2 separate regions of the Homo sapiens genome follow, and region 1 is linked to region 2. Evidence: fine-mapped expression QTL. Tissue or cell type: thyroid. Region 2 holds a variant in brackets; the other region holds the start of a gene. All regions are shown on one strand. Distances are from middle to middle. Region 1 holds the start of CATSPERG (catsper channel auxiliary subunit gamma). Region 2 overlaps CATSPERG (catsper channel auxiliary subunit gamma).

The links. PIP is the estimated chance that this variant, and not a neighbour inherited with it, causes the effect.
Region 1: it holds the start of CATSPERG, and the variant in region 2 is the best candidate, but not a certain one, in a credible set for the expression of CATSPERG in thyroid (GTEx, PIP 0.69).

The regions. Positions count from the first base shown.
Region 1 is chr19:38,334,166-38,336,871 of GRCh38, reverse strand. CATSPERG (catsper channel auxiliary subunit gamma) reads right to left here and starts at 1,042. Exons shown (of 29, transcript NM_021185.5): 1 at 997-1,042. RefSeq lists silencers at 255-424, 795-874 and enhancers at 995-1,204, 1,009-1,303.
Region 2 is chr19:38,356,470-38,359,480 of GRCh38, reverse strand. CATSPERG (catsper channel auxiliary subunit gamma) reads right to left here. Exons shown (of 29, transcript NM_021185.5): 10 at 2,938-2,997; 11 at 2,620-2,739; 12 at 1,153-1,203; 13 at 920-1,049; 14 at 1-11. Among named protein-coding and RNA genes, the nearest start is that of PSMD8, 17 kb to the left of the region's middle. The variant G/C (reference allele first, on the strand shown) is at 1,260.

The DNA of each region.
Region 1 (2,706 bases), 22 kb after region 2:
CCTGCTCCTCCGCCTCGTTCCGCCCCGCCGCCTCCACGTCTCTTCCTTTAACTTTATCCTCACCTTGCTCCTTATTCCGCCCCCTCCCTGTATTCCACTCTTGCTCTTCACCTGGTCTTGGTTTCTATTTCTCGCTTTGACAGTCCCCCTCTTAAGTTCCCCCGTACTGCTTCTGCCTGCGATCGCACCCGTGTACTTCCACCCGGCTGTGCCCCAACCTCTTGCCCCACCCTCGCACTTCTCTTGGTATCGCCGCTTTCTCCTCGCTCGGGGTCTGCCCAGGGGCTGGGTACTGTACCTGGTCTCGCCCGTCTCCGGGCCCCGCCCCTGCTCTTGCTCCCGGCCCCGCCCCTGCTCTTGCTCCCGGCCGGGCCCCCGTTTCTCGCCCGGGGCTTGCTCCTCACTCTGCTTCCGCTCCTGACCGCGCCCCTACTCCTCCACTTGGTCTTTATGGACCCGTTCCTTCCCCGGGTTCTCGGCGATTGGTTCTTCCCGCGCGGGCCCGTCGCCCCGTCCCGCCCTCTGGTAACGCCCCTCCTCCTCGCCCTGCCCCTTCTCGATGAAAACTGTCTCTTCGCCTCGGGATCTTTCCTCGCCCTTCGTTGTTTCCTCGCCCCACACCTTCTCCTTCCACGCCGGCACCAGCTTCTTAGCCGGCACCTTCTTGAGTCTCACCTTCCCCTCGTACCGCGACACCTTCTTGCCCCACTTCTTACTCTTCCTTCCCATGCCATTAACACCTGCCTGCTCTATACCCCGACTCTCCTGCCCCGCCCCGCCCTTCGCCCTTCACGTTCGGCTCCCCCTTTCCCTCCTCTGCCAGCTCCCACGACTCTTCCCCTCTTTCCCTCCTCTCCCAGCTCCCACGACTCTTCCCCTCTTTCCCCTGCCTCTCCCCTTCTCGCCTTCCCCTTCCCCTCCCCTTCCTAGTTCCTCCCCGTCCCCGGCATCCCCCCGCCCCTGGATGGCACAGCTTTTTCCCCGGCCCCGTGGTACCAGTCACTTGGTTAAAACCGGTCAACTGTCACTCGGCCGCACCAGTCCCGCCCCTCTTGCCCGGTCTCAAAATGGCCGCCCACACTTCCACAGCCGACTTCCGCCTTTGCAGAGGCACGCCCTCCTCTCACGCGGTCTCCAAGGTGACGCGCAACCCCTAAGGCACCGAGGGCTGGAGGCTGTCTCAGCACTGAGGGCGCGGGGCCTGGTCGGCAGAGGGTGCTGGAGACTACGTTTGTGCCAGGAAGGCCTTCAAGGAGTTTCTATTGGTTGTTCTGGCAGCAAGCACGGTCCCTACTTGTGCTTCCTACCCAAATATATATATATATATATTTTTTTGAGACGGAGTTTCGCTCTTTCTCCCAGGCTGGAGTGTGAAGTGGCGCGATTTCGGCTCACTGAAACCTCCGCGCCCCTGCCCCGGATTCAAGCGATTCTCCTGCCTCAGCCTCCCGAGTAGCTGGGATTATAGGCTCCCGCCACCACGCCTGGCTAATTTATTTTTTGTATTTTTAGTAGAAACGGGGTTTCATCATGTTGGCCAGGCTGGTCTCGACTCCTGACCTCAGGCGAACCACCCGCCTCGGCCTCCCAAAGTGCTGGGATTACAGGCGTGAGCCACTGCGCCCGGCCCTACCCCAAAATTCTACTCCTTAAAAAAGTGTGGTTTCCTGGAGACCTTGTGAGAATGAATAGGCTGCTTAGCACCGTCCTCTACAAAACAGGACAAGGACAGCCATCCTATACTGTTGTGGGAAGTGTGCCCGGCTCAAGTAAAATATTCATTAAGTTAATTTTCATTTGCATTCTGATGCCTTACAGGTAAGGATTCAGGCCATGACTTTTTGATGAACTCCAGACCAGACGTTTAACCCAGTGGTTTTCAAATTTGAGCATGCATTAGACTCACCTAAAAGGCTGGGTAAGCCAGGTTGGTGGGTACCACACCCTGAGTTTTTGTTTTTGTTTTAAAGATGGAGTCTCTGGCTGGGCATAGTGGCTCATGCCTATAATCCCAGCACTTTGGAAAGCTGAGGCAGGCGGATCACTTGAGGTCTGAAGTTGGATACCAGCCTGGCCAACATGATAAAACCTTGTCTCTACCAAAAAATACAACAATTAGCCGGGCATGGCGGCGGGCACCTGTAATCCCAGCTACTCGGGAGGCTGAGGCAGGAGTTGCTTGAACCCAGGAGGCGGAGGTTGCAGTGAGCCGAGATCCCTCCACTGCACTCCAGCCTGGGCGACAGAATGAGACCCTGTCTCAAAAAAAAAAAAAAAAATTAAGCCAGATGTGGTGCTGCACACCTGTAATCCCAGTACTTTGGGAGGCTGAGGTAGGAGGATCGCTTGAGGCCAGCCTGGGCAATATGGTAAGACCCTGTTGCTAACAATTTTTTTAAATTAGCCCAGTGTGGTGGTCCATCCCTGTGACCCCAGCTACCTGGGAGGTTGAGGCAGGAAGACCACTTGAGCCCAGGAGTTTGAGGCTGCAGTGAGCTCTGAAATACACGGAAATGCAGTGAGCTGTGATCACACCACTGCATTTCAGCCTGGGCAAAAGAGCAACACCCTATCTCAGGTTAGCCTTGAATTTCAGGCCTCATGTGAGCCTCCCATCTCAGCCTCCTGAGTAACTACCTGGCTACTTCCAGAATTTTTCATTCAGTAGATCTGGAGTGGGGCCTGATAATTTGTATTTCTGGCAAG
Region 2 (3,011 bases):
CCTTGTTAGAGCTGCAGGGACAGAGATGGAGAGCTAGGCGCATGCTGGACAGCCGCTTCCCCCAATCCCAGGCCTAATAACACGGGAGCCACTTACTGTTTCTCCACTTGTAAGAACATGCAAAGGAAGCTTGAAATCCTAGCTCCCGCCCCCCACCCCAAACCCTTTGAGAATCTTCAGCTCCCCATCTGTAAAACAGGAGCATTGGGCCAACCTGGCAGTTTGCCAGCCACCCAAGAAGGTGGCTCAGGGGCCCCTAGGTTCCTGAGGGTCGAGAGGGTGGCTGGGGTGGGGAGGATCCTAAACTGTCCCTAGAAAATGTTTGTCAATTAGCCGGGCATGGTGGTTCACACCTGTAATCCCAGCACTCTCGGAGGCTGAGGCAGGAGGATCACCTGAGGTCAAGAGTTTGAGACCAGCCTGCCCAACATGGTGAAACCGCGTCTCTACTAAAAATACAAAAATTAGCCAGGCATGGTGGCATGCAGCTGTAATCCCAGCTACTCGGGAGTCTGATGCAGGAGAATCGCTTGAATCTGGGAGGCGGGGGCTGCAGTGAGCCGAGATTTTGCCACTGTCCTGTAGCCTGGGTGACAGAGTGAGACTCTGTCCCAAAACAAAAACAAAAACAAAAAAAAACCCTAGAAACTGCTCATCTATTGCTCACACAGGCTGGGTCTTTATATAAGGTTTCATTTTAAGAAAAGGGCTCCCACAGCTTTAAAACATTGGCTTCCCCCATCCCAGCACTGACTACCCTAACGGTGTGTTCCTCATCACAGTCCTGGTAACTTCTGGATTTGTGCATCCTTTGAAGGCTTGGTGAGACTTGCCTAGCCTGGGCTTGAAAGGGTCCCCACCGTAAAGTTGCTGGGGAGACAGAGTATGCCTGGCCCACCCAGGGGTGGTAGAGGCCCACCTCTGCAGGAGGAAGTTGCCCCAGATGAAGATCAGATTGTTGTACGGGTTACAGAAGATGCCCTTGGGGGCCATTGCAGTGCTGGTGTAGGACTCTGTCCCTAGGATCATCAGGAACTCCAATCCTCGAGCTGACCGGAGCAGAGGAAGAGAGGACACAGCAGTGAAGTGGAGTCACCTGGGCCCCTCCTGGCCCACAGCCACCCTGAGGCCACGTCTGCCTTCCCTTCCTACCTTCAGGGATGAATTCTGGGATGTGGTAGAGAAGTTCCAGGTCATCACTAGCTACAGGTGGGGAGAACACAGCAAAATCTCCTGAGGCCCTGCACTTTCAAAACCTG[G/C]AGCTGGAGCAAGTTGTTTGCTTCTCAGCCTCCTGTAAAACCCTCCAAAGAGCTTCCCACTCGGGTTTGCTAGTCCTTAGAGTTTCTTTTCTTTTATTTCCCCCCTGAGACAGGATCTCCCTGTCGCCCAGGCTGGAGTGCAGTGGTGTGATCTCAGCTCACTGCAACTTCTGCCTCCTCGGTTCAAGTGATCCTCCCACCTCAGCCTATGGAGTAGCTGGGATTATAGGCGCACACCACCACCATGCCCAGCTAATTTTTTTTTTTTTCGAGATGGAGTCTCGCTCTGTTGCCCAGGCTGCAGTGCAATGGCATGATCTCAGCTCACTGCAACCTCTGCCTCCCAGGTTCAAGTGATTCTTCCACCTCAGCCTCCTGAGTTGCTGGGTTTATAGGTACCCACCATCATGCCCGACTAATTTTTGTATTTTTAGTAGAGACAGGGTTTCACCATGTTAGTCAGGCTGGTCTTGAACTCCTGACCTTAGGTGATCCCCCCGCCTCGGCCTCCCAGAGTGCTGGGATTACAGGCGTGAGCCGCCGTGCCCGGCCAATTTTTGTATTTTTAGTAGAGATGAGGTTTCGCTATATTGCCTAGGCTGGTCTTGAACGCCTGAGCTCAAGCATTCCACCCACCTTGGTGTCCCAAAGTGCCAGGATTATAAGCACGAGCCACCACGCCTGGCTCTGCTCTTTTTTTTTTTTTGAGACCGGGTCTTGCTCTGTCACCCAGGTAGTAGCATGATCATAGCTCACTGTAGCCTCAACCTCCTGGGCTTATGCTATCCTCCCACCTCAGGTATATTCCAAGTAGCTGGGACTACAGGTGCGACTCCATACTCAGCTACTTTTTTTTTTTTTTTTTTTTTAATTTGTAGAGACAGCCTCTTGCCATGTTGCCCCAGGCTGGTCTTGAACTCCTGGCCTCAAGGGATCCTCTGGCCTTGGCCTCCCAAAGTGCTGGGATTACAGGTGTGAGCCCCTTGCCTAGCCCTTTAGAATTTCTTCATGTGAATTATAAAAAGGCACTGCCTGAGAGGAAACAGTCCTGTTAAGGCACAGGACCTGTCTCCTCTGACCCCTCGGTTGGGGGTTTTGTGCACTGCACAGCCTGCACAAATCTACATAGGGGCCCTATTCTCACTGCAGGTAAAATAAAATCTCTTTATTGTGAGCCACAGGGCCCTTTCAGATCACCAAGCCTATATCCTGTTCTCCACTGCTACTCCTCAACCAGGAGTGACACAGGTAATGTTGCCCTCCCTCTGTCTGCTGGGCACAGATCCCTCAGGATGGGCATGCAGTCCACAGTCTGGGATCCTGCCCCTTTGTGCCCAGCCCCTTGCATCACCCTCATTACCTGTGTTGTAGCTGACCACCTGGAAACGTTTACTTGCATTACCATATCCACTCTCCACCAGCAGCAGTAGAGTATACTCACCCGCGATGTATTCAGACCAAATTATGGAGCAGGTGGTAACTGAGAGGGAAAGGGGCAGTCCAGAGCCGCCCCAGGGCTCAATAGCCTTGGTCCTGTGCCAGCTGTACCCCTCCCCATAACTCACCCCTCCCTAAGACACTGCCCATTCTTTCCCATGACCCCTGCCACCCTCCCCTGCTCTTCTGCATCCTCAGTTCCCCCAGCCTCCCACCGCAGACCCATCGGGGTAATGAGTACCTCCTATCTGCTCGCACACAGACCACTGCCTGGGCAGCATCTCAAAGGACACCTGGCCATCTGCAGAGCAAGGT